2 separate regions of the Homo sapiens genome follow, and region 2 is linked to region 1. The links come from fine-mapping of genetic effects on gene expression. A gene starts in region 1. The other region holds a variant in brackets. All regions are shown on one strand. Distances are between the middles of the regions.

Region 1 (15,633 bases):
ATCCAATAGTTCTGATACTGCATGTGTTCAGTAACTTAGAAGTCTGAAGGATTCTCTTCTTGGCTCAAGAGGATAAACAGTAGGCCCTGGCAACATTTCTGTGTAACAAGCTTGTTCAGAAATGGGGTCCAACTAATCTTCGTCAGTCAATTGAGAAAGCAATTTAAATAAAATTAGAGATGGGGAGTTGGAATTCCCAAAATTCCAAGTCATTCGCATCCCATAGAGGAAAATCTGGAAGGCCCAAACACTTCAGTTACGGATTTTGGGAACTGTTAGAGAAAAGACTTATCTTCTCTGCAATTTTCTCTTTTCTTTCCCTAATGAAGGTCACACATGGTCCTTTCTATTCTCATCCAGGACAAGCGAATGCAGGGGGAAAACTGAAATGTCACTTTGGGGCTGCTTCCACTTCTTGGCTATTATGAATAATGCTGCTATGAACACGGGTATGCAAATGTCTCCCTGAGATCCTGCTTTCAATCGTTTTGGATACATACTCAGAAGTGGATTGCTAGATCATATAGTATAGGCTGAGTATCCCTTATCTGAGGTGCTTGGGACCAGACATGTTTCAGGGTTCAGATTTTCTTTGGGTTTTGGAACATCTGCATTATACCAGTTGGGCATTCCAATTCCAGAAATCCAAAATGCTCAAATGAGTATTTCCTTTAAGCATCACATTGGCGCTCAAAGAGTGTCTTTGCATTTTCCTGTCTCCCAGGCCCTCCCAAAGTAAAACAAATGCAAAACAGTCTTTTTTCATGTATTTCCGTTGTTCCAGAAGGACAGGAGCTGTTTGTTTTTTTCACTATTGTATCCCTAGTATCTAGAATATAATGCACATAAAAAGCATTCAAATATTAGTCGAATAAGTGACGATGAGCAAATCTGTTATTGTTTGTTGATAGTATATCAAAATCTAAAATATGGTATCTTGATTTGGCCTACATTTATGAATTTATGAATTTAAATTTTTAATTAATATGTTATAATGTTCTGTCAAGGTCACTACACTTTCCATTTGCCCAATTTCTAAATGAGTCTAAAAACCATCATAATAAAATATAGATTTCATATCACTTCTGCCTCAGAATAATTCATGGATTTCTACTACCTCCAGGAAAAAAAAGCCTACACTTCTTCCAGTGGGTCTGAGACCCTCCCTGATTAGTACCAGCCTCCCTCTCGAGCCTCTTCCATGTTCATCCCAGCAAGCCTCAGTTAGAGACAAATAGAGCATTTGTCTATTCCACAGGTAATGCCTTTCTGTTAGTCAGAAATGCTACTTTACACCTTTAGTTTGTTGAAACGCTACTCATTTTTCAAGGCATAGCTTAAAGGTTAACTCGTAGAAAAAACTTTTTCCCCAAATGCTATCACTGAATTGAACTGTTCTGTGTGTCCCTGAAGTTTGCACACCCCAAAGGTTTAACACAGTGCTTTGCACAATTAATAGCTTCCAAGAACTTTTTTGACTGAATTCCCATAGAATTAATTTCGAAGTAGAATAAAACCTACCAGGTGCAAAGTCTGGTTCAGTGTCATTAGCACTATCACCATCACTGCCTTCCAGAAGAATCTTCCTCTGCTGTGCTGCAGCTTTAGATGCTGCTTTTCTTTTCCCTTGAACACCACCAACATCATCTTCCACAGTAATCTTATCCAAATCTTCAGGAGAGGCATAAAAATCAATGGAAAACTTTCTGTGACAACTGATATTTCAAGAACTGCAGACCAGACTCTATTACAGCTATTGTTTTTATTTGCCCAGGTTCATCCCTCCCATGCTTCCAGTAATAGACTATTAGCCCAATCTGGGTCAACCATGGTACATCAGTGCCCTGGGAACACCTCTAGTTTTAGGGATAAATCCAAGACCCAAACAGAGATAATCTTTCCCCCAAAATTTTCAAACTAGAATTGGGAATATGCAGCCCCTTTCTTCAAAGGTCAGTTGCTCCAACTAGAAGCCACGGGTAGTTATGACCCTTCAGGGAAGAATGTGTGTCTGCAGTACGACAGAATGAGACTAAAACACAAAGAAATAAAGGCCATGACATCAAGAGAGTCTTGACAAATTTAAAGAACTTGCTTCTAGCCACAATTTCAGCAATTTAAACAAAAGTCAGAGAAACAGCATTGTTGATGAGAAAAATTATTAATATAAAAAACTTACCTAAATAATCACTGGCTACACTGCAATTAGAGATATGAGGAGACTTATTCATTGTTTCTATTTTACTACTGCCATGTTTTTCAATGCCTAAATATAAGGAATAAGAAAGAAAATTCAGATATATCTTAATCAATGTCTAGATATAGGAAAATTAGTACTAAAATGTAATAGCATTTAGATATAAATAAATGATCCCAAACTCCAACTGGCACAATAATTTTATTCAGAGAGGTTAACATATGGTTAGAAGTCTGGGCTCTGAAATCTAACATGTTTAAATTCAGGCTCTACCATGTAAACTGGCTATATGACCATGGGCAAGTTGCTTATCCTAAGACTGAATTTCCTCATCTATAATGTGGAGATAAAAATAGTGTCTTACCCAGTGGTATTACAGAAGACCAAATGTGGATCTCACATAGGAATTGCTTATTATTGTGCCTAATATACAGGAAATGGTCAATAAACTATCAATTCTGTGTAGGCAAATCCATGCTTTTACTAACGTTAAGAACTCTCCAATCGTTATAATAACCTTAAAATGACCCAAAGCATTCTAAGAGGACTTTAAGACATAATAATTGGTACTATTAAATTCCAATGCTATAAGGTGCATTATTTAATAAGAAATGGTATAATATTAATACTTCTAAGGAACTCCCCTTATACATTCTACAATGTCTTAAAAGAGAGAGATGAATTTCAGTGCCTCCATTTTAAATGTAATTCATGATAATTCTCTTTTGATGTTTCTTTGATTCTTGGTTACTAAAAGTCTTCCTAATCAAACTTTCATTTCTTTTTAAAGAGGAGGCAGCCAGATAAGGTGGCTCTCGCCTGTAATCCCAGCACTTTGGGAGGCTGAGGCAGGAGGATTGCTTGAGGCTGGGAGTTTGAGGGCAGCATGCGCAACATAGTGAGACCCCTCTCTACAAAATAAAAAATTAGCCAGGCATGGCGGCACATGCCTGTAGTCCCGGCTACTCAGGAGGCTGAGGCAGGAGGACTGCTTGAGCCTAGGAGGTCAAGGTTGTATTGAGCCATGATCATGCCACTGTATTCCTGCCTGGATGACAGAGAGAGACCCTGTCTCAAATAAATAAATAAATAAGGAGGCAGTACTGATTTAAGAAACAAAGAAAAAAGCTCCATGTATACCCCTAAATAAGATAATAAGCTAAAATATCCCCCAACATAAAAACTTTAAGCCAAAAAGCATTTTAGCAGTAGAGTATCTTTTTCAGGAATAATGATTTCTGCCTCTCTAGAATATTAATATATTGCCAGAAAAATCAAAGGAGAAAATCAACAGAGAAATCCAAAAGCCATTCTCTTAAGTCTACTGAACTTGCTAACCAAATTAATACCTTTGACCTTTGTAAGTAATAAAAATTACCATAATTAGGGTATGTTTAACTGATCTGGAAAAAATGGAGATGGATTGTTAGGACTGTACAGATCAAATCATTTGATGAAGAAATTAAATGTTCACTGTACAACAACATATAATTCGAACACTGAGGCTCACAGTCCGTGCCCTCAAGCTTATTCTGGGTGTTAAGCAGAGATGTATGTCTGTTTGTATGAGATTTAGGCAGCTGAATTAAGAACTAAATCCAATCGTATTCTCTGCAAATGGGTCTATTTATAGTGCAAAGTATTCACATTTTACCTGTTTCCTCTGTGAAGGCCCACCCAAACAAATAATCACAAAAGCATTAAGAAGGTTTTAAAGCTAAATATACAGAAAATAAAGTTACTTTTATCTTGAGAGTTCTGCACATTAGTGGTGACTGTTGGAAGTTCCTTCACTGATAAAGCTAGTGCAACTTCTAAGTCTCTCTGGTAGAGCTTGTCATCTAAAGCCATCCTAAAATAGATACACAAGTAATAATGAGTTCTTCAAAATATCAATCTCAACTAAAGAGCAAAGTTTGAGATTTCTCCAAATTACTATTCAAGAGTTGCTAACTTCGCAAAAATGTTTTTAAACAATCATCATTAATAGACCTTTGATGATAAGATAAGACTCCTAAAATGTCACAGTATCATGTTACATACAGAATAAGAGGTTTGAAATAGGAGGACCATGTGCCTCTTTGCAATGACTGTTCCCTTTCATTGTAATGTGTCACCTTACTACCAGCTGTGTCCAGGTGGGAAACACCCTACTCAACCCAAAACAGACTTGGTTCAAACATCACTTCCACTTAAAACTCTTCCTTGACCTCACCCACTCCCCTTTAGCAGATTTTATAGCTCTTACATTAAATTAAAATTATTATCATTTTTTTACATCTCTTCCTCCCAATCCAGACTTTAACAAATATTTTACCAAGCACTTACTTTGTACAAGGCACTGCACTAGCTGGAATACTAAAAGTACCTTCAGGGAGTCTGCAATTAAAGGAGGAGGGTGGGGAAACAAGACATGCTAATAATTATCCTATAAAAGGCAGACTATAAAGTCCTATTCAAGCTGCTCAAAAGTGCTATGGAGTATAAGAGGAAGAAAACGTCAAAGACAGATAAGGAAAAGTTACATAAAGGAAGAAGCACTGAGATGTACCTTAAAGAATTTATTTTTTTAGAATAACAGTTTTCTTAAGATATAATTCACATATCATAAAGTTTACCTTTTAAAGTAAACAATTCAGCAGTTTTTAGTACATTCACAGAGCTGTAAAACCACCAACACTACCTAATTTCAGAACATCTTTATTACCCCAAAAAGAAACCCCATACCCATTAGCATTCACTTCCTGTTTACCCCTCTCCCCTCCTAGCAACCATTAATCTGCTTTCCGTTTCTATGGATTTGCCTATTCTGGACATTTCATGCAAATGAAATCATGTAATATGTGACCTGTATATCTGGCTTCTTTCACTCAGAATGATGTTTCCAAGGTTCATCCATATTGCAGTATATATCAGTTATCAGTTGTCATTTCTTTCTATGGCTGAAAAATATTCCATTTTGTGGAAACCACATTTTACTTATCCATTCATTAGCAGATAGACATTTAGATTGCCTCCATTTTTTTTTAGCTATTATGAATAATGTTGCTGTGAACATTCATGTATGGGTTTTTGTGTGGGCATATGTTTTCATTTCTCTTGGATACATACATAGGCTGGGTCATGTAATAACTCTGTTTAACATTTTGAGGAACTGCTAAACCATTTTCCAATTTAGCTGCACCATTTTACTTTCCCACCAGCAATATATGAGGGTTCAAATTTCTCCACATTCCTTGTCTTTTGTATTAAGTCATCTAGTGGGTGTGAAGTATTATCTCATTCTGATTTTGATTTGCATTGCCCTCACAGCTAATGATATTGAGCATCTTTTCATGTGTTTATTGGTTATTTGTTTATCTTCTCTGGAGAAAGTCTATTGAAATCTTTTGCACATTTTAAATTGTGTTGTTAGTCTTTTTACTGTTGAGTTTTACGAGTTCTGTGTATACTCTGGATACAGTCCCTTATCAGTTATCTGATTTACAAATATTTTCTCCCACGTGTGGGTTCCTTTTTCTATATATTTAAAATGTAATACAAGAAACTCACAAACAAAAACCAAAAAAAAGAAAAGCAAAAAAGAGCATGACATGAGGTAAGTTTCTCCAGGCTAACTCACTTTTCATAGAGAAACTTGTGGCAGTAAAACATTATATATGCCATGTTCCATTTGTTAATATTCCCCTTCCGCCCATCTCTTCTCCATACTGCAAGTTTTGGGTCTCTAAGGACTTCCTTCACTCCTTTCTGCCTCTTGATACTATCTAATGGAATTCCACGGTTAGTCTAGAAACTATGGGAACTTCTCACTGCTGGATAAATCTTAACAACATGGGGAGAAGACATCTTTTTCTGCAAGAAAATACATGGTTTTATATTTTAAAAACTGTCCTCATATTAAGTCATCTTGTGTCTTAATCATCTTAAGTCATCTAATGTCATTTTTAACAAAGTAGTCTCGTATGATTTGAGGAATTCAGAGATAAGTGCTGGGTCCTGTCAAAACCAGTCATAACTTCTGAATTCTACAATCATTATTGTCTTAATATTTAATGATACTTCCTTGAATGTTTGTGAATTTCTTTAAGTCAGAAAGCCAGAAAAAAATAGTACGTCCTGTTTTCTGACTGCACCTAGTAAAATAAGACCTATGACTCTGCCCAAGTTCTAATTTAAATCAAGGGTTCGAATCTGTGTCTCTTTAAAATTAACACATCTAATGTCATATATTTACTGCATGTCTTACCTCTCACCTTTTTTTAGGGGTTTTCTCTTGTACTGGGATTTCTTCTTTCCGGAGATTGTTCAAGTTAGGTTTTGGTTTATCTTGTTTTAACTCCTTTGGTGCTGTTCTGGATTTCTTGTTTAAAGGTACAGTTGCAGAAACAAAATCATCTATTCATGTGTGAATTAAAACCAAAAGAAAAATATTATTTTCTTCATAAATGAAAATCATTACCATGTGTGTTCAAGTTTTTATAGGCTAGGCAAATTGTTTAATTTCCACAATTTAAAAATCATTGTTAGTATTTTGTTTATCTTTACTCTCATTTATCTATTTCGACTTTTGTTTTTGTGCCCTTTATATTTAAAAATATCAGTCTATCAAAAACCAATTCACTAAAAACTGCAAAAGCAATTAAGACAGCATATAAGTGTCAAAGAAAAAATGATTAAAAACCTGTAAAACCATTAGAAAAATTGGTAGAATTTAATCACATTGAAAAGTGGAAATAAATTATTTTTATGGGAACTTCACAATGTAGCCAAATATCTTTTTTCAAAGCCCATTACTTGGGCCAGGCACAGTGGCTCACACTTGTAATCCCAGCACTTTGGGAGGCCAAGGCGGGCAGATCACCTGAAGTCACGAGTTCAAGACCAGCCTGGCCAAAGTGGTGAAACCCTGTCTCTACTAAAAAATACAAAAATTAGCCAGGCATGGTGGCGGACACCTATAATCCCAGCTACTCAGGAGGTGAGGTGGGAGAATCGCTTGAACCTGGGAGGCAGAGGTTGCAGTGAGCCAAGATCGCGCTGTTGCACTCTAGCCTAGGTGCAAGAGTGAGACTCCGTCTCAAAAAAAAGAGAAAAAAAAGCCCATTACCTATTCCTAGTACATTAACCATGCTAGAGGAAATAAGCATTATGGGGGGAAGAGAAAGTAGCTCCTATTTGAGGATTTTTACAATAGTAGTATTTTCTCTTTCCATTACCATAATGATCTTCCTAAGATCCTACCAAAGTAACTTCTTATTTTCTTGCAAAAGGATGTTCTTTTCCAGTCCATTACTGTTTCTCACAGGTTTTTCTGTCTTACCAATCCTCTGAACTGTTGTAGTTCTACTCTTGACTGTCAACGTAAAACTACTGCTGTGGCTTTTCCACATGTATACAACACATATATGCATACTTTCAGGGTCTATGCAGTCTTCATCACATACTCAGCAAGCACTAATACTTGTTGTCTCTTATATGCTTCCCCATGTAAAAATAAGATAACTTAGGACTCCCCCCACCTACTACTACACACCTGGCAATTTATAAGTATCTGATGACAGACTGATGACAAAAAAAAAAAAAAAGCTAGATGTTATACTCTACACTCTTTTTCCCAAGTGGTAGATACAGTTAAGGCTGTGCTCAAGGCAAAAACAGATTCCTTCAAACCGAAGACTTACTAAATATTTGACTTACAGAAAACTCTAGTGGTCTAAGAAAGAAATATTAAATCCACTTCAACATATAACATAATCTAATGCAATGTTCCTCAAACTTTTCAATCATAGCAGAGTCAAGTAAACATATGACTAATGCTTAAAAGGCATAACATAAGCCTAACCTTTCTTCAAGGTCTTGTTTTATAGTACAATTAATAGGGATTTTATATAATATGCTGTAACATCTTTGTATCTCAAAAAGACAGTGTTTTCCTTCTTCAGGGATGGAATAGGAGACAAACCTCTATGTTGCAACTATGGACTTTAGAGTAGTTTAGATCTAAAGAGACTTTTCACCTGGCCTGTTCATTTATCACCTACTAACATAATTTTTATCAGTATAATTATCAGCATAATTATCCCAAATGATTAGAAAACTATCTTTCCAGACCTACCTCATATGCATTTGGGCAATTTAGTCAGTGTTTGAGCTATATATGTCATATAAATTCCGAGGAAATGAGTTTCCAAATCTTTAGAACAAAAATAAGAAGCTTTACTTACCATCACTGTCAGAGTGGTCAAACTGTGAGTAATTGACTGGTTTCTTATGTCTATGACCAAAACAGAATTTTTTCATTAACACAAATGTCAATTTCTCACCACTATTACTTAAGGCTATTAATGAATATTATTTATTTATTTAATATTATTCATTTATTAATAAATAATGAATAAACGAAATAAATAAAAATGTGTTAAATGAAATGTGTTTCAATAAATGAAAATGTGTTTGGGTTCAAGTAAGAATATTTAACTCTAAAACATGATTTGCATTTTACCGCGGGGATTTATCATTAGCTAAAATAGTTACAACTATACCTGATATACCTGGGTATTGTTGGCTTTTCAATTATATGATAAAGGAAAAAAATTCAGGTAACTTACAAAGAATAATCTACATAATTAACATTTATAATTGCTATACTGTTTAATTGCTGTTGGGCATTTGTAAGTTCCCGTTGTACGTGTTCTTCTGTTTTGTGTGTGCATTCTATCTTCCTTACTAGATTATAAATTTCTTGACACTAAAAGCTACTTTCTTTTCAATCTCTCCACCATACCAAATAACATTTTTATGCAACGGACACTTAAAAATGGTGAGTGACCTTGTTCCTACCACCTGAGATGAGTATCCCTTATCTGAAATGCTTGGAACCAGAAATGTTTTGAATTTTGGATTTTTTCAGATTTTGGAATATCTGCATTATATACTTACCAGCTGAGCATCCCAAATCTGAAAATCTAAAATCTGAAGTGCTCCAATGAACATTTCCTTTGAGTGCCATGTAGGTACTGCAAAAGTTTCAAATTTTGGAGCATTTCAAATTTGGGATGCTCAACTTGTACTACTTCAGAGGGCATTAGAAGAAAATGATATTCAAAGTGAAAAAAATAATTTTTTCCTCCCTCCTCTAGGCACTAAATAAAATGTTTTTCTAGTTTTTATTTCTATATTTTTGTCAAATGGCTAAATGTGAATAACCTAATTTGTCAGCTGGTTGTTCTTTCAAGTAAAAAGAATGTTCTATGAAAAAGAGGTAGTAAGCTCAGCTCACAACTCAGACAATCTCACAAGTGCTTTTCCTTGAGATAACTATCACGCATCAGTATACAGAAGTGCTTTATGTGTACTTCCTGTTTCCTCACGCAAACTATTAAAAAGTGCACTCATATTACTCTCTTACTCTTCAGAGTTAAAGAAGTTAGAGCTGAATAAAATGTGAAAACCCCTTTATAAATTCTGAACTTGAATAATAGTAAAATAAAATCAATAGCCTATTTTTAATTAGTATACTTAAGGGTTAAGCTATGATGAATATAATAATTTCCACTACTTCATCAAGCATATTCTTAACTGAAATGATTTTTTTTTTTTTTTTTACTTTTAAGAGTATGGCAGTAAACATTGCAAAGACTAGTAGTACAATTTAGTGCCACTGCCTTAATTGTTCTGAGGTGCCAGCAGTTTTATCGGGGTCACTGCAGTGCAAATGACAAAGCAGCGAAAAAGGCAAATCATATCTTAGTATTGTTATGAAAGGAGTTTTGACCTCATAGACCTCTAGAGAAGTTTCCAGGGACCCACAGAGGTCTGTAGACCATACTTTAACAACTGCTGTTCCTTACAAAGGGATTATGACTCCACTGCCTGGATGCTTAAAACCCATTTCAAATTCAGCATGTTCGAAACAGAAATCTTGATCCCTCACACCTCCTAACCTTCCTTTTCCTAGTCTTCCCTATCTTAATACAAAGATCATCCATCCTGTAGCTCAGACCAAAACTATTGTGGAGTCATCTCTGATTCTTTCTTTCCCTTACCTGTACATCTACTTCATCAGCAAGTTCTGTCCACAGTGCCTCCGAAATACATCCCAAATTCATCTGTTCCATTCCATGCCCACTAATAATACCCTATCCCAAACCGCTCTCCAATGATATAATACCTGATTTTCCTGCTCCCGTTCTGGTCACCCTATCCATCATTTATTCTCCACCAACAGCCAGTGACCTTTATAAAAGCAAACTTAGATTCCTCTCCCCTACTTAAAACCCTCCACTGACTTCCCATTGACTTAAAATAAAACCTAAACTCCTTTCTAAGACTTACAAGACCCTATCTGTTCTGGCACCTGCCTATTTCTCTGGCCTAATCCCCCTACGATTCTCCCCACTGCTTGTTAATCCTATAGCATTAGACTGTCCCTAAAATATGGTCAAGTATGGGGCCTTGGCTCCTATTCCCTCTACCCTGATTCATGACTCAGTGCATGCATTATCGCCTCAGAGTCACATATTAACTACTATATTTAAAGTAGTGCTTTCCTCTTTCGCACTCTCATATTTCGAGGCTTATTTTCGGCCCCCTAACCTCACCTCCCACTGGAATGTAACCTCCAGCACCTCGTACACTAAAGAAGTGAATATATTCAATAACTTTATTAAATGAATGGCTAACTATAGGCTTCCATGGCACTCAACTGTGTAAATAGAAGAATCGTTTCTAATACCACGATGGAAAGCACAGAGGATCTTGAGTGAGATGACTTAGGTTTGAGTATTGCCCTGCCACTTACTGGGCTGTATGACTCAGATAACTTACCCTCTATACGTAGAAATGTTAAATCAATACAACAGGAATGCTTACTCTTTCTATATCAAATAACTACAGTGATAAACAAATAAAATAACACATAATTGGGCGCTCGGTGAAATGTAAAGCGCTGTTCAAACGCTAACAAGGTCTTGGTAAAAGAAACGGCGACGGTTGTGAAGGGAGGCAAAGAGAAGGAAAAAGCTACGATGCTAGGATACTTCTGAGCAACGGGTGGCTCTCACTGGAGACTGGGTTCTTGATAACCGTCCATCCTAACCCCACCATCGCTGCCCTCCGGTCTTACTCGATCCTTTCCCCTTAGTCTCATGTCTTTTCCCTTAGTTTTCCTCCCACCCCCGACGAATGTCAGGAACTACCCACCTCACAGGCCGCACCATGGTCCCTTTCAAGGCTTGGTATTTACAGTTCTCAAATTCTTGTTGGCTTCAGCGGCGGTTTCAATTCCCGCCCAAAACCAGACTTCGGAGCCCTCCGCCCCCTGTTACCAGTCGTCCAATCATCACCAGCCATGCTTGCGGCGGCGCACGCGCTGTGGGGAAAGCGAATTTGCTCCCGCCCTCCCCAAGGCACCGCTTTTCCGTATCCGGTCCACCAGAGCCGAGTTTGTGCTTTGTCCCTGCACTTTCGTCACAACGGCGGATTTGCCCTGTCTCTGAAATACAGAATAACAATAGAAATACACCTTATTGCACCTTTCAAATTGTTAAATTGAAACAGGTTGGGACATAGGGGCACTTGGACTGAGAAATTTTCTACAAGATGCCAGGAAATAGAAAAGGATGTGGCGAATCTACGTTCGCGGATCCGCGGTGTGGAAAAAGTATGTCGGCAAGTCAGCTGGTTTCCCAGTGCAGGACGCGCTGACAGCTCGAGTGAGCGGACTGCCCAGGACTTCGGAACTAGACGAGGTGAGCCCAGAACCGAGTGAGGATGCCCTTTCAGACTGACAACCGTTACAGAGGGATTAGTCCCCTCACCCGGCTGAAGTTTCTCAGCTCGACCGTCTGTCTTCCTTTTCCCTGATTAATGTGAGCCTCAGAGCCTCCGCTCTGTTGGCTGTGTGTGTTCGGTCCAGACCTTCCATCCCATTTTCTTATGGGAAACCTTCCTGGATTTCACGGTTGCTAAAACTGAACCCAGGCTTCAGGATAGACCATTAGTCTAAAAAAAGAGCGAGAGGAGAAAGAACTAAAGTTATCAGTTTCTTGAAACACAAGTCTAAATGTTGAACCAGAGCTTTTGTGTCTGCCTTCTCTTTTTTTTTTCAACATTCCTGATTCATTCATATTTTTGCATTTATCAGTGGTTGATTCTTTTTTATTGCTGTGTAGTATTTATCTCATAAAATAAACAAGTTTACTATTCTCCTACTAATACGCATTTTGGTTGTTTCCAGTTTGGGGTATTATAAATAAAACTTATATGAGCATTCTTCTGGGTGTACTTTAGCGAACATATGCGTGTGTGTGTATTTGGATATATACTTAGGAATGAAATTTCTACATCATAGAATATACCTTTATGTAGTTTTGGTAGTTTTCTAACATTATAAAAATTTGTATTGCTTTACGTTTAATTTTAATTCTTTCTGAGTAAAACAAATACCCTATCTCTTTGCATTATGGTGAAATAGACGAAGATTTTTGTGTATAGCCTACATACAGATTTGAAAATATAGTCTGGATAATTCAACTTAGCCCCGCCCCACGACATGTACAAAAGTCCTTTGAGTTTTTTTTATATTTCAGGTGATATCTTTTTAAATAACCGTATGAATAATTTTTTGTTCTTTATTTTTCCAGTGAGCACCATAAAATAAAAACGCCATACAATCCAACAATTATTTATTAGTTCTTGCCATTCGCAACATCCTGCCTAATACATGGAATACAAGACAGTATTCCTTCCACTTCAAGAAGACTGTTTTCTAGCCAAGAGTAAGAAATAGAGCGTGATAAGTGCCATGATTCAAATAAGTCTAGGCTAATATGAGAGCCTGTCGGGACCCAATCCAGTTTTAGGGAGTTGGATAAGTCTTCCTAGAGGCTTAACTGAGACCTGAAGAATTAGCAATTGTTATCCAATGAAATTAAGATCAGTAAGAGTGCTCTAGGCAAAGGAAAAGGCATTCAAAAAGATTCGGCATGGAAGGAGAAGTTTGGTGTTGACAGAAGTTCAGAATGGCTGGAAAATAAAATTTGTGAATTTGTGTATTAGGAAGGAGAGGTGCAGTTTCTGAGAGAAGAGTGGAAATATAAGCAGGGGTGTTGTAAACTGGGATAAAGAGTTTGCATTTTATCCTGAGAGCAATGGAATGTCATAGAAAGTTTTTAAGCGGATGAACAACATGATCAGATAAGTATATTCCTTTTTTAAAAAGGAAGATTACTATAACTTCAGTGTAGAAAATAATGTAAGAACTGATTTGATGGGAGAAAGCCTAGCCATAGGAAGTCCAGTTACAAGGCTGATGAATAAATAAATCTTTAATTGATGTTGATTCTTACTGCCTTTAACTAGATTTTCTTCTTCCTTAGTAGTGTCTAGTTTGCCTTTGGGGTGTGGGCCGGAAGTGGAGGTCCTGTACTCTCTCTTTTCTGTGTATCTTCTTCCCACATGGAAATCTTTCTAACACTTTCTTACTCCCCTTCCCCCAGTCGGATCTCATGACCACAACCTCTAAGTTCTCCAGGATCACTCCTTGGTCCCTGATCTGCTTCTTTGACTTTCTTTTTACCAACGGTTTCTTAAGCTTTGTATTTCCCCACCCATGAACTCTCCCTAAGAATTCTCTCTGCTCTTCTCTCCATGGTCCTTCCCTATTATTGAGAACCCTGCCTTGGAATATAAAGTACTTTATGGCCATAATTTTTTTTCTTAAATCAAGTTTAAAACAAAGTGTCTTTTTTTTTTTTTTTAAAGAAGCACTTTGTTTTCATCATGAAGATGGAAGTACAGGGATAAACACTTGGGAAAAACTAGAATAATTGGCTCATAGACAAAATCTCTTGAATGGTGGAATGTTTTCTTAGAAATGGGACAGCAATAATGAAACATAATTTCTTTATGGACTTATAACCTACTGCTTTTTTGTTAGTTCTGTAGAAATCCTGTCAAAGAATATGAAGAAAAACAGAGAAAGATTCTGCAATAGAGAGAGAGAATTTGTATATAAATTTAAAGTAGGAAGTCAGTGCTTAGAACTGAGAGTGCCACTCAAATTTCCTGTTCAAGAGAATGCCAGTCATTTGCATGGACGTCTGATGCTGCTGCACAGTTTACCGTGCTTTATAGAAAAAGGTGAGGACTGTTTTTTTTTTTAAGTAACACCACTTTATTAGTTTCAATAGTCTGTCATTGGAAGTTTCATATTAGAAAGCATAAACCTAAGAAGCTTTGGAAACAGCCATAACATAGGAACTGATTCCAAGAATAAAAACATTTCTCCAGAGCTTTCTTTTATTGAGTGTTTTTTCCTATAAGTGGTAGTTGTTTATAAAATATAAAAATTAGATTTTATAATGAAAAATTAGCTACAAAGTTTGGAATTAGAGGAGCTCTTCTGAATTTAGTTGGGTGAAGTTATAAGGCAGTTTAGCTATCGCTAATTGTGCTAATAGAATTATAGTGCTAAATTGGTTGCCCTTTTAATAATCTGGTCATTAATTTCTGAGATGCCATAGAACAGAAAGTGTACTAATTTTTGAATAGTCTTTGCTTACCTAAATTAGTTTTATAAAGTTAGATGTATTAAACCATTTTTAAAGGTCTGTGCTCTATCTCACAGTCTAGGAAAAATTTAAAATTCAGAATATGTTAGATCACAGGTTAGAGTTATAAGAGAACCTAGAAACTTTATAGCCCAATCACATTGTACAAACAAGGAAACTGGAACATAAAGAGGTTAAATTATTTACCCTAGGCAGTGGTTCTTGAAATATGGTTTCTAATCATTTAGCAGCAACAGCATCACCTGCAAGCTTGTTAGACATGCAAATTCTCGGGCTGCATCCCATTTCTGCTGAATCAGAAACTAGGGTAGCATGTGGCAGTCTGTTTAAATAAGGCCTCCAGGGGTTTCTAATGCACACTTAAGATTGTGAACCACAGTCTAAAGTCGCGAACATAGTGATAATAATAGAGCCAAAGCCAGAACACAGGTGTCCTAACTTCTCTCTCAGTGCTCTTCCGTTATATCATTCTCTAAGTGGTGTCTGTAAAACTGAAATCGGTCAGTCATCTAAGTTAAATGTGTTAATAAGCTAGTCATTTAACTTCTCTTTCAAAGGATGTAACAATGTACCCTTTAAAGTTACATGGAAAACTCTTTTTAATGTAAATACAGTAATGTTCAGACCTTCAAAATCTGTAGCATTTTCTTTATGTCCTTATACCCACTTGGCTTCAAACTGAAATATCAGGCTTAAGAAAGTAACATTACTTTATTAGTATCAAGGGAATACGTAAGAGTTAAGACTTTTGACCTTTCTCTATGCAATAGCCTGTAATAGTAAAGGAAAATAATCATGAAATTAGTTAAATGATCCCCTAAGCTGATTTCATTTTAGTTGGAGATTCTATTAAGAGTATCA
Region 2 (15,633 bases), 61 kb after region 1:
TTACATGGAGGCATTTGACTTTTTCAAGAGGCTTGACTCGTCTCAGGTGCAATCCTTAATTAAACATACAAACAAAATTTTCCTTTTACTTTCTTTGCCAAAACAAAATGTAAAAGCACTGAAATATACATTGCAAGTACAAATTTCCTGTGAAAATCTTTTTATAGAAACACAAATGTATAAGACAAATGTGCTTGTTCTTTTAAATTCTCCTGTTTCAGAATCTCTTTTTAATCTACTCCTAAGGATGTACAAGTTAGAGTCAGAAGACGTTTTGGATTTTTTCCCTCTCTCTCATCCTCCCGCTGTGCCCTTGCACTTGCATATTAATAACATTTCATGGACTGGGAAATAGTGTTCTTTTTTGCAAGCTTGATGTCAAGTTAGTCTAAACCAGCACCTGGCAGTATTTTAGTGCTCATCAACATTGTGACAATCACACAAGGAAGATCATTTCTACATTTCTGTCCTCCCTGCGTTCTCAGCTTGCTTAACCATTCCTCTACCTCTTGCATTTTTTTGCGGATAAATGTATCCCCATTTCTGCTTCTCTGTTTCCCCTCCTTTTCCATTGTTTTTCCTTATGGTACTACTTTCTCAGGTGCTACATATCATATATTTGTCCCATCTATAACATATTTAAATGCTATAAGTAGTAACTCCATTAAACAAAGGCATTTACAAAAGCACACAGGTGTTTAGAAAAGCAATAGTTTCATCAATTCCAAGTTATGTGGATATTGTAACTGGCCACAAGAATGAAATGGAGGGCATTTGGTGTCATAAGATGGCATGTCTTGATGACAAGAAACAAAACGCCCTTCATTAATATGCCTCAGTGTAATAACTATTATAGAAACTGTTGGCAAGCAGAGTGCTTTCCTATAACAGAATGTGTCTTAATTTTCTACTCGAGGGAAAGGTTTGTCCAGGTAACAACACTAAAGACAACCCTAAGAACACCCACTCCAGCAGTATGTCCATTAGACACTAAAACTCTCCAAATTATTTGTCAGGGAGCCTGGCGATTCTGCCAAGAAGGCAGGTGTTTTGCCCTTAGAGCCTATACAGTTCTCTTGGAGAAATTGTCTTTCAGGCACCACTGTTAATCACTGAGACTGATTCTAATGCAAAGCAGGGAAGACAGAGGCAGAAACCAGGAGAGTGGTAGATCAGTGCAGCCCAGATATCGGAATGGAGGAGCAAAGTTTCATTCACGGATGTTTGTTGAATGCTGCTGCCCAACTCTTCCTTTGTCACCTCTAGGCTATTCCACTAAGTTACTTATAAACTGGTGGCTTTAACTGAGGGCTGTGTAAAGGTACTATTTGGCATGTGAAGTCAGGATAAATTTATCGAATGTCCGTTTTCCACATGCAACTGTGTTACAGAAGTAGTAAAATTGGAAGAATCATGTTTATGGTGTTACCACTGATGGAAACACACAAACACCAAGCTAATAATAAATATATAACTTAAAAAGCTAATTATATGCACTGAAATGGTGGGAATTTTAGTGATGCAGTAATTGAGGAGTCTGGAGTTTTGTATTTGGACCAAGAATTATGAGATGAGGATCTTTTTCTGAGTGTTCTAAAGGGCTTCTTGAGGGGGAGTGGTTTAAAGCACTTCATGAATGATGTGAAGAAGGTACCTTGGGCTGAGACAGCATTCTAGGTACAGATGGCACTCTGTTCAACCAACTGTGGATGGAAAATATTCTGAAAAAAAATACAATAAAAATTTTAAAAATACAATATAACATCTGTTTACATGGCATTTACATTGTATTTGGTATAAGTAATGTATAGACGGATTAAGTATATGGGAGGCTGTGTGTAGGTTGTATGCAATTACTACACCACTTTATATGAGACTGGAGCATCCAGGGATATTGATATTGGCAGGGGGTCTGGAACCAGTCTCCTGCAGATACCAAGGGACAACTGAGTAAGGCGCAGATAGGAGCAGAAGCAGAATGGAGGCAGTGGTAAATGGCCAGTAAGTTGAGAGGAGCTGACCACGAGAGTCTTTGAGGATGGGGAGATTAGCACAAACATTGACATTGGTGAGGATTGTGAGTTAGAAGTTTTCTATTTGTATAAACAGTTACATATTCCTAAATGGCCCTCAAGGCCTTAAGAGTGTGCTTTGGAAATCAGGCAGAGGCACTGAACCTGAGGTCTCCATTCTGTGCTGCTCTTTCCCCCCCTTCCCCCATTTCTGCTCTCGAAGCACCACACAAGCAAAGCCATTGATCTAGAAGTGTGGCACCAGCTGTTTCTCAGCATGACAGTGTGACCAGAATGGAAGAAATGCATGAAAAAGAATTTCAGCGGGAAGAAACTGAGCTTGCCTGGGAGTTGGCAGATCTCTTATTGGCACAGTACACACCATCATTTGTGTTACTTCAGTTGGATCCTGGCTAATTCTCACAAGAAGAAAACATGTTTCACAAAAGAAAGATGAAATCACAGAAACATTTCTTTTCTAGAGGCTCTAAGGGAGAATTCACAGAACTGTAGAAAGAACCCACTAAAGTTAGAGACGAGCCTCAGGCCTATTTTTCAGTTTCTTTTTATTTTCTATTTTTCAGTTTCTAGGTGAAAATGGCTGCTTTTCTGTGACTTAAGTTTTTCCATTTATATGAAGTGGGACTGATTTGCTCAGTAGGAGTAATAGAAGTATAAAAATCATAAATGTGAAGCAAAAAGAATACAACACCTATTTGGAAAAAGTACCATGTTTTCAGGACCTTTTAAATCAGTGATTTTCTATCCTTTGTTCAAGAATCTTTCATTATCCATCACATCTTTGCCCGAAATGTTTTGAGAACATAAACAATTGGAATTATTTGAGCAATCTTTTTTACTAAATCAAAGACAGGTATGTCTGGAGAGAAGCTTCTGATTAGCAAATGGTACATAGTATTATCACCTACAATTATCACTGTGCATTCTCATGCCTAGTATTACCACATAAAATGCATAGAATTATCATTGTGTAATTCCAGGCAAACTTGCAAAAACAAAGCCTTGGTGTTTGACTTAACCTGTGGGACATCATCCAAGTGAAATGTATTTTTTGAGAGATTCTTTATAGCTCAATATCTTAAAGGATCACTAATTCCAGGAACCCCAAGCTGGGAACCACAACCTTGGGCAGAAATATTTACATGAGAATATGTTACAAAGGGACGGCAGAGATCAAGAAAACATAAATAGCAGATTGACCCTGAGAATCTCGTTCAATAAACAGCCAGTGTTTACTGAGTTTCTTCTATACACAAAGGCATAGTGCAAGCAAGATTCAGCCCCTAGAAGGTTATACAAAGGCAATGGGACTTGTAAAGACAGAAGACTTGGCGGGCTTTTCTGTAATCTGTGATGCTGATGATCTCTAATAACTAAAATAAAATTTCAGCTAAAGCAGGGGAAAGGAGGAGTAACCTCCTGAGGTGCCTGCAGGACCAATATGTGCTTATAATGTCCTATTTAAATATACACAGATAAAATTACCATATACTTCAGTTCTCTCTTGCGGTTCATTTCCTGTTTTCCTACAGGAAAATGGTTCTGGATATGTCCAAATCGAAGACATATGAGGCTTTCTCATATATCCAAATCTAAGGCTGGCTGAACTTCATACTATATACAGTCAATCCTCATTAGTTGAAGATACCATATTTATGCAATCACCTATTCACTAAAATTTATTTGTAACTCCGAAATTGTTAAAGACATTTACAAAAGCATACAGTCATTTACAAAGACAATAGATTCATCACCCCAAAGTCACGTAGATGTTGTAACTGGCCAATAGAATAAAAAGCAGGGCCTTTGGCAGCACTTTCAGGTTATCTGTGGACATGTTCAGAGCACCAAAATGTTTGAGTCGCCCAACACATATGTT[C/T]CCAGCTCAGATGGAGCAAGGTGATGCTCTGCTGCCTTATTTTAGCTTTCATAGTGCAAATAAATGTCCCTTTCATGGGTCTGTTTAGCACCATGTTTTTTTTTCCATTGCTTTGTGGTGATTTTGTTGTTCAAAATGGTCCAAGTGTAGTGCTCAAGTGCTATCTGGTGTTCCCAAGTGCAAGAAGGTTGTGATGTCCCTGATGAAGACAACGCATGTCTAGATAAGCTCTGTCCAGGTAGGCAATGTAGTGCTGTTGGTCAAAAGTTCAATGATAATGAATCAGTGATGGGTATTAAATAAGGTGTCTTTCAACAGTAGCACACATAAAACAAGATTATATCTTGATGGGCTGATGAGACTGTTGTGGTCAGAGCCTTGCAGGAATTTAACTCTCTGTCTCCCTTGGGAGCAATGATTTAGTATTCACTAATTCAGGGTTCACAGCATCTTTATCGAACATAACTACTGTGAACTGTGAGAGTCGACTGTATGTGTCTTCTCTCACCGGCAAGAGGGTGCAAGAGCTATTCGTAGATATTTTTGGTGCATAGAGAATGAAACCTGGAACACGTTACCAAAGAAGCAAACAGATCCTTTCTTGACATGTTCAGGAATTAAGCAGAAACTGTACTGTCATCTGTCATACGTTAGGTGTGACATCTGCAGGAGGAGAATGTACTGATGCATGTCTCCTCCTTTCTCCCTAGCCTTCTCTCCTTTTCTTTCTTTATAATAAATTCTCATTTCCTGGTATCAGCTCATCTGTGCTCAAAAGTCTCTACTCTGAGCAACAATATAACATCAGAGATCAGGAACATAGTCTCTAAAGTTAAGCCTGATTCAAATGCTGACTCCTCAGTTTATTTGCTGTGGCTTGTTACATCGGGCATATTACCTAATCCCGTTAAGCATGTTTCCTCATCTGTAAGCTAGGGAAAATTAATAATAGTATCTACCTCATTGAGTGGTTGGAAGGATTGCATAAGAAGGGCACATTACCTGGCATATAGTCATCCTATAAATATTTGCTGCTATTATCCTTCCTTCCTTCATTCCTTCCTGTCTCCTCCTTCCTTTCTTCCTGTCTGACCTTTCTCCTTCTTCCCTTTCTTCCTTTCACTAGATAGAAGGGATGCTAAGTCACTTAAGACACCGTGTCCTCAAGAAGCTTACAGCCCAATTGAGTTGGTAGGAAAACACACAGTAACCACAGTACCAGCTAGCATATACTAGAGGTATACAGTCAGTGCAGAAAAAAGCATACACAGAGTGCTATGGAAGTCAAAATAGAAACATTAGCATACGTTGGGCCAAGAGAGATGTTGAGCCTCTTGAAAGCAGACTGCTTATCCCTGCCTTTCTCTGGCACTGAGTGAGTATCCTCTGAACCCTCATTATTCTCAACAGGTGAAGCACAAATCCTCCTGGCAGATGGGAAGAATGCCACCTGTGCCAGCAATGGCAACAACTTCAGATACAAAGGATCTGAATGTCAGGAGGAAGTCACAGGGTAGGTGACTAACCCTGTATTTGAGTAGAGCAGGAAGGACTATCATATTTTTTATATGAAGTGAATCTAGATTTTAGAAATAACAATAGTATGAAGTACTTATGGAATTTAAAGTCTCCTACCCACATAGCAGCTGAATGAACAACTTGCCCCTGTAATGCTTTCCTGGTTCAACTCTTAGGACTCTCTTGTCAGCAAGCTGATCATGTGTTTGCTGTCTTGCAGATGAGCAACTGAGGCAAGAGGATTAGATGCTAGGAAGGTGTAGAGGAGATGTCCTGGGATGAGAGAAGAGGATCAGAACTCAGAAATCACTAATCTACTTAGTCTACTTTATGTGTGTGGTGATGGGGATGGGGGAGGGGCACTAGGATAAATACTTTTTCTTTTTAAAAATCATCTTGGCTGTCTTGGCTAGTGTAGCACATTGACTCTGCTATCTGAATTTCCTTTTATCGTGAAATACTTCAAAGATAAAAAGAAGTTAGAGAAATTATAACAAATAACCATGTACCTACTACTTGTTTTTGTTCAAGCTTAAAATTTTGCCACCTTTGCTTTAGGGCTGTCTTTTTTATCACATAAAAGATCACAGATGCAGGTTCTCTTTTGCTCCTGTAGCTTTAGCCTCTCCTTGTATCAGCTACTTCTGAGGAACAAACCACTCCAAAACTTAGTGGCTGAAACAATAAGCATTTATTCTTTATGATTCTACGGGTGGTCACCTCAGCAGTTCTGGTCTCGCCTGGGCTCATTTTTGAGTCTTTGGTCAGTGGTGGGTCGAGTAGGCCACTCTGATTATCTGGGCTAGGCGTTGTCACATGTTTGGGGGTTGGCTGGCTGTAGGCTGGTATAAATGACCTCTGCTGGCACAGCTGGACTTTTCTTCACTGTGAGCCATCCTCCGTGAGGCTAGCCCAGACGTGTTTACATAGTGGTAGTAGAGCTGGAAAAGAGGATTGACACACCATCACTTCCACTACATTCTGTCGTCGATTAAATCTGGTCACACAGCCATCCCAGACTCAAGAGGTGGGGTAATAGACTCCTTATTTTGATGAGAAGTGCTAAAAAGTCACATTGAAAAGAGCATGAACACAGGATGAGGAGAAGAACTGGGAATATTTTTGTCTTCAATGTGTCATAGTCTCTCCTTGGCAGTAACCGCTATCTTGACTTTGTTGTTATTCATTCTTACAGGTTAATTTATAGTTTTAATGCATATCCACAGAGTGTAGCCATAAGATGTATATAGTATTGTACTGAAAGCTTTATCTTCTACAGATCATTCAACATTTGCATTTTTAAGAATCCAATATCATGCTTTTGGGATTTAATCACGCTAATATACATATAGCTACTTTACTAATTTTGGCTGTAGTATATTTGAAGACTGAATTATATGCCTATAGTCCAATTTATGTATTTACTCATTCTCCTATTTATTGACAGTGAGGTTGCTTTCACTTTTGTGTCACTTCATACTGTGCCACAGCAACTACATTCTTGTACATGTATCATTGTGTACATATGTTACAGTTTTTCCATGGTTTATATCTCTGAAAAGAGTTTCTGGATTATCGACATCTTAAAATTTAAGAAATTCCAAATTTAACTCCATAGTTGTACCAAATTTTCCTTCTAATGGCATGTGTGAACACTCCTTTTTCTTCATATAGACTGGGCAGAAATTTTTGGAAATTTTAATTCTTACCATTCTGATAAGTATAAAATAGTATCTCGTTACTGTTTTATTTTGCATTTCCCTGGTTAGTGGCGATGTTGAGCAGCATGGCACATTTGTTGGTCATTTGGATTTCGCTTTTCTTTTTTCTTTCTTTCTTTTTTTTTTTTTTTTTTTTGACAGAGTCTTGCTCTGTCACCCAGGCTGGAGTGTAGTGGCACAGTCTTGGCTCACTGCAACCTCCATCTCCCAGGTTCAAGTGATTCTCGTGCCTCAGCTTCCCGAGTAGCTGGGATTGCAGGTGTGCACCACCACGCCCAGCTAATTTTTGTATTTTTAGTAGAGACGGGGTTTCGCCATGTTGACCAGGCTGGTCTTGAACTCCTGACCTCAGGTAATCCGCCCTCCTCAGCCTCCCAAAGTGCTGGGATTACAGGCGTGAGCCACCACTCCCTGCGTGGATTTCCCTTTTCATGAGTTGTCTGTTTGAATCCTTTGTCCATTTTCTTCTCTTCCATTGTTTTCCCTTTCCTTATTGAATTTGCAGACATTCTTTCTATATTCCAAATATTAAACTTTTTTTTTGAGATGGAATCTCACGCTGTTAACCAGGCTGGAGTGCAATGGTGTGATCTTGGCTCACTGCAGCCTCCCCTTCTTGGGTTCAAACGATTCTCCTGCCTCAGCCTCCCAAGTAGCTTGGATTATAGGTACTCGCCACCACGCCCAGCTATTTTTTGTATTTTTAGTAGAGACAGGTTTTCACCATGTTGGCCAGGCTGGTCTTGAACTCCTGACCTCATGACCCACCCACCTCAGCCTCCCAAAGTGCTAGGATTACAGGCTTGAGCCACCACGCCCGGCCCCAAATATTAAACTTTTATTAGGTATTCTTGAAAACCTCTTTTCTTTTCCCAGGCTGTGGTTTGTTGTTTTACTTTTTATTATGTTTTATTTTCGCAGAGGTCTTAAATTTTGATGTGACATATCAATCTTTTCCTTTATGGTTTAAACTTCTTATATCTCACTTGAGATACTGTTTCTTACCCCTAGTATCGTAGCTAAATACTCATATATTTTCTCCTGTGAGTTTTAACACTTTGCTTTTTCTTATTTGGGCCTTTAATCCATTTGAGATTCACTTTTGAATATTGTGAGGTAAGCATCCAATTTTATTAGGGGTGTAGACAGAAACAGGTAGAAGACAGTAACAAAACATGACTAAAACTTTCCCAACATTGATGGACATGAATCTTCAGATTCAGGAAGCAGGTTGACATCTAAGCAGAAAAAGAAAAATAAATCTACAGCTAGACCCTTTGTGGTAAAATTGCAGAACACCTAAAACAAAGGTAAATCTTAAAAGTCTCTAAAAAAATTTTTAAGAATCAAATAAAGAGAGATTTGCATGACAATTTTAAAGACTACAAATTTTCAACAGCAACAATAAGCACCAGAAAATAATAAGCATTAAGAGAAAATAACTGCCAATTTAAAATTTTGTAACCAACTAACCTGTCATTTAAGCCCTACCCATCACTTTCATTACTAGCTGTGACTAGGACAAATTATTTTATCTCTTTGAATCTCAGTTAATTTGCCCATAAAGTATGATTAATACATTTTCCTCTCTCTAATTCATAAAGCCACACAAGAAAAAAATAAGAATGCTTTACAAATTATCAAGTTACAAAACGATATAGTTTACTTTGATCGTTGAGAGTAGGTTCATATTTGAATGTGACAATCTTCATATTTTTTGGGGGATGAGGCAGAGCATGGAAAGTTGGATGCATGGACGAAAGGAAGAATATAATTATGCATTAAATGAATATTTATTGAGCATCTTTTGTGTACCATGCATTGTTTTAGATACTGGAAACATTGCATAATACTGAATAAGACAGATAATCTCATCCTCTGTCGAGCAGAAGAGACATTAAAATCAATGAACAACTATATATGAAATTATAGATTATTATGGGTCCTGTGAGAAAATAACAAGGGGAATATAATGGATATGCAAATAAGACAAAGCTTTTAGGAGGAAATTATATTTAAACTAAGACCTGAAAAATCGGTAGCAATTAGCCAGATAAAGAGTAGAGGAAGATGCTTTCCCAGGCTGAGGAAACAAAACAAAACACAAACAAAACCAAAAAGCAGGAGTTACAGGATGAACACAACTGAGTGTGGGAAACTAAAGCCCTGGATTTCTGTCTAGAAAGCTGAAAATGGGAGACACAAGGTAAATACAAGGAAAATTATAGAAAGGGAGAGTTTGAAAGCCAACCCATAGAGTTGTTTATGAACTCCTGGGCTTACACTAGAGATGTGCCAGCATGAATCTAATTCTAAACTTCATACCAAAGCTTTTGAGAGCTTAGACTACACCCAGGTTTTAGACTGTCTACTGAGTGACACACATGCAAGACAAATTCAGATAACACTGCAAAGTCTTTGAAAATGGGAATGACATTGAAACCATAACCCACAAGAGGTCGGTCTGAATGTGTGGCCTGAAACAGACTGGTTGATTGTCTGCTAGAGAAAAATATCAACATTCTCCATAGGACTGAAAACCTAGAGTCTCATAACAATAGTAAAAATGACCTGAATACAAACTAAAATTACTTGCCTTACAAAGAATCAGAAAAAATCTCAACTCTGAAAAAACAATCAATAGACAGTAATTCTGAGATGGCAGATGTTGGGATTATAATACAAAGACTTTAAAACAGCCATTATAAAAGCCCTTTTAAAATTCATTTGAAATGTGTAAAACAATAGAAATTCTTAGCAAAGAAATAGATCTAAAGAAGAACCAAATGGAAATTTTAGAGATAAAAAATATAATCTCCAAAATTAAAAAAAACACTCACTGGATAGGAACAGAAACACAATCAAGATGACAAAGAGAAGAGTCAATGGCCAGTGAACTTGGAAATAGATCAATAAAAAATTTCCACGTTGAATACACAGAGGAAAAAAAATGAAAAAATGATCTGAGCCTCATGGGCTGAATGGGAAAAACAAAAAGTTCTAAATTCATGACATTGGAGTCCCAAAAGAAGAGAAAAGATGTAGTGATGAGAAAACATATATTTGAAGAAATATTGGCTGAAATTTCTCCAAATTTAGTGAATAATCAAAATACTGAAAACTAAAGACAAAGAAAATAATCTTGAAAGCAGCCAGAGAAACCCAATGCATTACTCATAAGGAAACACCAATTTGAACGACTGCAGATTTCTCATCTAAACTTGTGGAAGCCAGAAGGAGGTGGAACAATTTTAAAGCGCTAAAAGACTGTCAATCTAGAATTCTATATCCAGTACAAAAATTCTTCAGGAATGAAGGGGAAATAAAGACATTCTCCAAGAAAGAAAAACTAAGAGAATTTGTTGCCAGCGAACCTGCTAAAGGAAGTATTGCTAGAGGAATTTCTTCAGACAAAAGGAAAATGACTTTCAGGATAAAAATTGGAACATGAGGAATGAAGGAAAAGGAATAGAAACGGTAAATGCCTGAGTAAATACAATATTTTCCTCTTGGGTTCTTTAAAGTATGTTTGATTATTGAAAGCAAAAATTATAACATTATCTAATGAGATTTTCAAGATATTTATGCAAAGAACACCTAGAACATAAATGGAAACCTATATGGTGACAAGGTTTCTACATTCCACTGAAGTGGTAATATTGAGTCTAAGTAGACTGGGGAAAAACAATATTGTGAGACAAGAAAGACTGAAACATTCATGTAAATGAGAGAAGTCTAATAGTATCATTGAGCTATTGGGTCACTACTGCTTCTTTCTCATCTTAGAAAAATTCCAAATGGAAAGTTTGCCTGAAGTACCATCCCTCTCACACAGTCCCACAGCTGATCACCAAATCCTCATCTTTCAAATCTGTTCATTTATTTCCATCCCATTGGTGCCTTCATAATTGAAGAAATAATTGGTGCCATTATTTCTTGCCTATATGCCATCTTTCAAACTGGTTTCTCCAACTCCAGTTTTGCCTCTTCTTCTTTCTTAATCTCACCATAATTATCTAAAATTCAAATATTATCATGCTGTGTTCCTGCTTCAAACATGTCAGTTGCTCCTATGTTGCTTTTAAAATAAAGAGTGAACTCTTTGGTCTGTCTCCTGATTACCTCTCCAACTCCTTCCCCCAAGCAATATTCTCTAGACCAGCATAGTAACTATTTTAGGATTTGAGGACCATGTGTTGTCCATTGCAACTACTCAGTTCTGTGGCTGTAGTGCAACAGCAGCCATAGATAATATGCAAATGGCTGAGTGGGATTGTGTTTAAATAAAACTTTAATCACAAAAACAGATGGCTTGCTGGATTTGGCTCATGGGCTATTATATGATGATCCCCTGCTTTACACAACTGAACTACCTCCAGATCTGTGTAGATGACATTTTCTTTCATTTCTTGAGTACTGCATAATCTACTCTCTGAAATATCTCCCTCCTTGATCTGGTTACCTTCAATTCACCACCAGGCCTCAATTTGGATGCCACTTCTTTAAGGAATTAAAGAGCCTTTATCCCTCTACCACCATTGTTGCACTTACCACACTAATATATTTATCTTTTCATTTGTCTGGCTTTCCCTATTTGTCTATAATCTTTTCAAGGGCAGAAACTGCCATGTCTACACTTTAATCTCTAGTGCCTAGCAGAGTACTACTACCAGGCACATAGCGCCCTCAATAAAACTTACATTTCCCATTGAGTGAGTAGAAGCCCACTAGCCCTCGGGCTGACCCAGCCCTAGTCTTAAAACTTTAGGGTTGGCAAAACACTGGCTGACAGTGTAGTTGTATCTCCATGGAAGCTGTGATCTGTTTTGGGTAAGTCATCCCTTTCCTTTGGCCTGGACTTTTCTCCCAGGGCAGTAGAGGTCCAAAATTAAGGACCAACCACTATATCTCTTCTTGGGCAGCACCCATCCCATCCACCAGGCAGCTCAGAGCCCTCAGCTCTGTCTGACCCCACTTCCGACAAGCACTCTCAGCCACTGACTTTAAAAATAAGCCCTGGGGGGGAAATTGCTACATCTCTTTCCAAATACTGTTACAAATGCCAAAAGTGGTGGACAATGAACCATTTGTGGTTAAGGGTGGAGCAACCACCATTCAGCCAGGCATCCTGGGGACTCTCTCCGCCAGTTCAGTGTCCTCCCTTTTCAGTGCACCACCAATAAAATGTCAAAGGCACAACTCTGTCTGCCAAGACATCAGGTAATTAAGCAGCTGAAGGGTCTAACTCACTCAGGGGTCAACCATATGTCCTGTTCTGAACTTGTGCTAAATCTCAAATAGAGATGTAGACCCTTTCTGCAGCACCTTACAGTCAAGTTGAAGAAACAAGACAAGCACATATGAACCATTTAGAAATTAGTAAAAATGCAGTTTATACATTCACTTTTCAAAGTGTATACTCAGTACCAGGCACTGTGCAGGATGCTGAGTTATAGAGATGAAAAAGAAGGGTCTCTTCATTCAAGGAACTGTCGTTATACTAAAATTTATGCCAAAGCTGGAATACTATAAAAGCAAACAGTGTTTAGAGTCCGAAGAAATTAACAAAGACTAGTTTTCAGAAAAGTAGGGCTCGAACTGATCTTGAGGAAAGTATGAGATAGAGATGAGCGGAGGAGAAAAGGATTTTAGTTAAGAGAAACGACATGACCAGAGATGTGGAGGAGGACTGGGTGTGGAGAGTGGAAAGGACAGCTGAATAGTGGGAGATGAAATTAGACTGGAGAGATAATGAAGGATCATATTGTGGATCTTGAAGATCCAGAATTTAACTCCAAAGGGGGAGATGATAAAATACCTTTCCTCTTTTTCAAAATTAGGCTTTAATTCACACCATCAAACCCATCCTTTTAAAGTGTAAAATTCAGTGGTTTTTAGTATATTCACAAAGTTATGTAACCATCACCATGATCTAATTCCAGAACAGATAACATCTTTCTGAATATTTCTGAACAGAGAGTTCATGGGATAAAATTGTTTTTCAAGCAGATTACCCTAGCTACAAGAGCAGGAATGATTATGTGTGATATAGAATTGGACATGGAAGCAAGCTAACAGACTCAGAGGCTTGGGGACCCGGGCCAGAATCGGTCACAGTGCCACCTCCTTTCCATGATATTCTCACCTCATCCATGAAGTGGGATAATTTATTGAAATAATAATCTGTATCTTTTTCTCCTTGTATTTTTCCTCACTCATGCCAAGAGCACGGCCAGACGTTTGTGTTCCCTAGCCTAAGCAGTACTGGAAGCTAATCTAAAATCCTCTCCTGACTTCTGTTTTAGGAATTCTGAACTCAGTGTTGGGATTATATTTGGGGAGAGGAGAAAGGGGACTATTTGGGAGCAGTGGAAGCTGAAGCTGAGAGAGCAGAGATTCCCCCAAACTGGTTGTATGTCACAGTGGTTAATAGAACAGATTCTGGTGCTTGACTATCTGGAATTGAGCCTTGACCTTGGGCATGTCACTGAACTTCTATCTGGGTTTCCTTGAAATGGGGATAATGAGAATCAATGATCTTGTTCTGAGGACTAAATGAATGAACATACATGAAATACTTATAACACTGCCTGTCATATAAGGAGAGCTATATAAGGGTTTGCTTGTTACTATTAATAAATCAGAGAAAAATAAATCATTGGCACAGGGTGGTGGAGTGTTGTCCTGTAAGGACTATTGGGTGGAAACAAGAGTAGGAAAAGATTTACGAGTAATGAAGAGAAAAACCTGAAAAATAGAGGGAATATTAAGGATGCAAGACTTTTAAAAATTAATTGTTATTGACAAAAATTATACTATTTATGGCTTACAAATGTTTTGATAGATGTATACATGGTGGAAATGCTAAATCAAGCTAATTAACATATTTATTACCTCATATACTTACTTTTTTGTCATAAGAACATTTAAAATTGACTCTGTTAGCTATTGCAAGTATGCAAGATGTTTTCATTAACTGTAGCCACCATGTTGTACAGTAGACCTCCTGAACTTATTCCTTCTGTCTAATTGAACATCGGCCTAATTCCCCCCCTAATTTCTCCAACATCTACCTAATTCTTCCCCTTCATCCAGCCCTCGGTAACCACCATTCTACTCCCTGCTTCTATGAGTTCGACTTGTTAAGGTTCCACATATGAATGACATCATGCAGTATTTGCCTTTCGGTGCTTTGCTTATTTCACTCAGCATAATGTCCTCCAGTTTCATCCATGTTGTTGCAAATGGAAGGACTGCTGTCTATTTTAAGGCTGAATAGTATTCCATGGTGAATACAGGAATATATATTCCTATATTCCTCACAATTCTATGTTATGGCTGAATAGTATTCCATTGTGAATATGGGAGTATATATTCTTATATTCCTTGCATTTTATTGTGTACAAGGATTCTCTTTTCTCCACATCTTCACCAACATTTGTTATCCTATCTTTCTGATACATAATAGACATCCTAACAGGTGTCGGGTGACATCTCATTGTCAATTTCTGATGTCATTTCTGATGACATTTCTCATGTCATTTCTGATGATTACTGATGTTGAGCATTTTTTTCATCTACTCGGCCATTTATATGTCTTATGTCTTTTTTTTCTTTTAGAAAAAGCTACTCAAGTCCTTTTTAAATTAGATTACTTGTGTTCTTGTTATCTAGTTGTTTGAGTTCACTGTATATTTTGCATACTACCTATCAGGTGTATGATCCCCAAATATTTTCTCCCATTCTGTGGATTTTTTCTTTATTCTGTTGATTGTTTCCTGTGCTGCATGTAAACTTTTAGTTTGATGAAAGCCCATTTTTCTATTTTTGTTTCTGTTGCCTGTGCTTTTGGGGTCATATCCATAAAATCTTTGCTAGGCCAATGTCAAGAAGATTTTTGGGTCTTACATTTAAGCATTTAATCCATTTCAAGTTGATTTTTATATATGGGGTGAGATAGGGGTTCAATTTCATTCTTTTGCATGTGGATATTAAGTTTTCCCCACAGCATTTTGTGAATAGACTGTCCTTTCTGGGTTGTATGTTCTTGGCACCTTTGTGGAAGATAGGTTCATCGTAAATCCATGGACTTATTTCTGGGCTCTCTGTTCTGTTCCATGGGTCTATAATGTCTATCTTTGTAGCAGTACCAAGCATTTTTCATTACTATGGCTTTATAGTAGATTTTGAGTTCAAGCAGTGTGATTCCTCCAGCTTTGTTCCTTGTGCTCAATCAAAAGTGGTGATTGAGGTCTTTTGGTGATAAGGGTCTTTTGTGCTTCCATGTAAGTTTTAGAACTCTTTTTTGATATTTCTATGGGGAATGCCACTGGAATTTTGATAGGGATTGCATTGAGTCTCAGATCACTATGGGTAGTATGGACATTTTAACAATATTAATTCTTCCAATCCATGAACACAGGATATCTTTTCATTTATTCATGTCTTCTTAAATTTCTTTCATCAATATTTTATAGTTTTC

Direction of the effects. Alleles are on the strand shown, and positions count from the first base shown. SD is a standard deviation of normalised expression in the study named.
With allele T in place of C in region 2, the expression in monocytes after Pam3CSK4 of the gene that starts at base 11,468 in region 1 is higher (large effect, 2.3 SD a copy in Quach 2016).

Evidence for each region. PIP is the estimated chance that this variant, and not a neighbour inherited with it, causes the effect.
Region 2: its variant is fine-mapped to the expression of RAD51AP1 in monocytes after Pam3CSK4 (Quach 2016, PIP 0.95). The same link has a PIP of 0.9 or more in monocytes, monocytes after LPS and monocytes after R848.

Annotation. Positions count from the first base shown.
Region 1 is chr12:4,534,725-4,550,357 of GRCh38, reverse strand. RAD51AP1 (RAD51 associated protein 1) reads right to left here and starts at 11,468. Exons shown (of 9, transcript NM_006479.5): 1 at 11,402-11,468; 2 at 8,425-8,474; 3 at 6,454-6,595; 4 at 3,940-4,049; 5 at 2,180-2,266; 6 at 1,522-1,671. The coding sequence starts at 11,418. FERRY3 (FERRY endosomal RAB5 effector complex subunit 3) reads left to right here and starts at 11,889. Exons shown (of 14, transcript NM_020374.4): 1 at 11,889-11,949; 2 at 14,139-14,341. The coding sequence starts at 14,164. RefSeq lists enhancers at 11,036-11,644, 11,645-12,254, 14,929-14,988 and a silencer at 11,860-11,909.
Region 2 is chr12:4,473,859-4,489,491 of GRCh38, reverse strand. FERRY3 (FERRY endosomal RAB5 effector complex subunit 3) reads left to right here. Exons shown (of 14, transcript NM_020374.4): 14 at 1-1,757. Among named protein-coding and RNA genes, the nearest start is that of FGF6, 36 kb to the right of the region's middle. RefSeq lists an enhancer at 3,055-3,349. The variant C/T (reference allele first, on the strand shown) is at 3,913.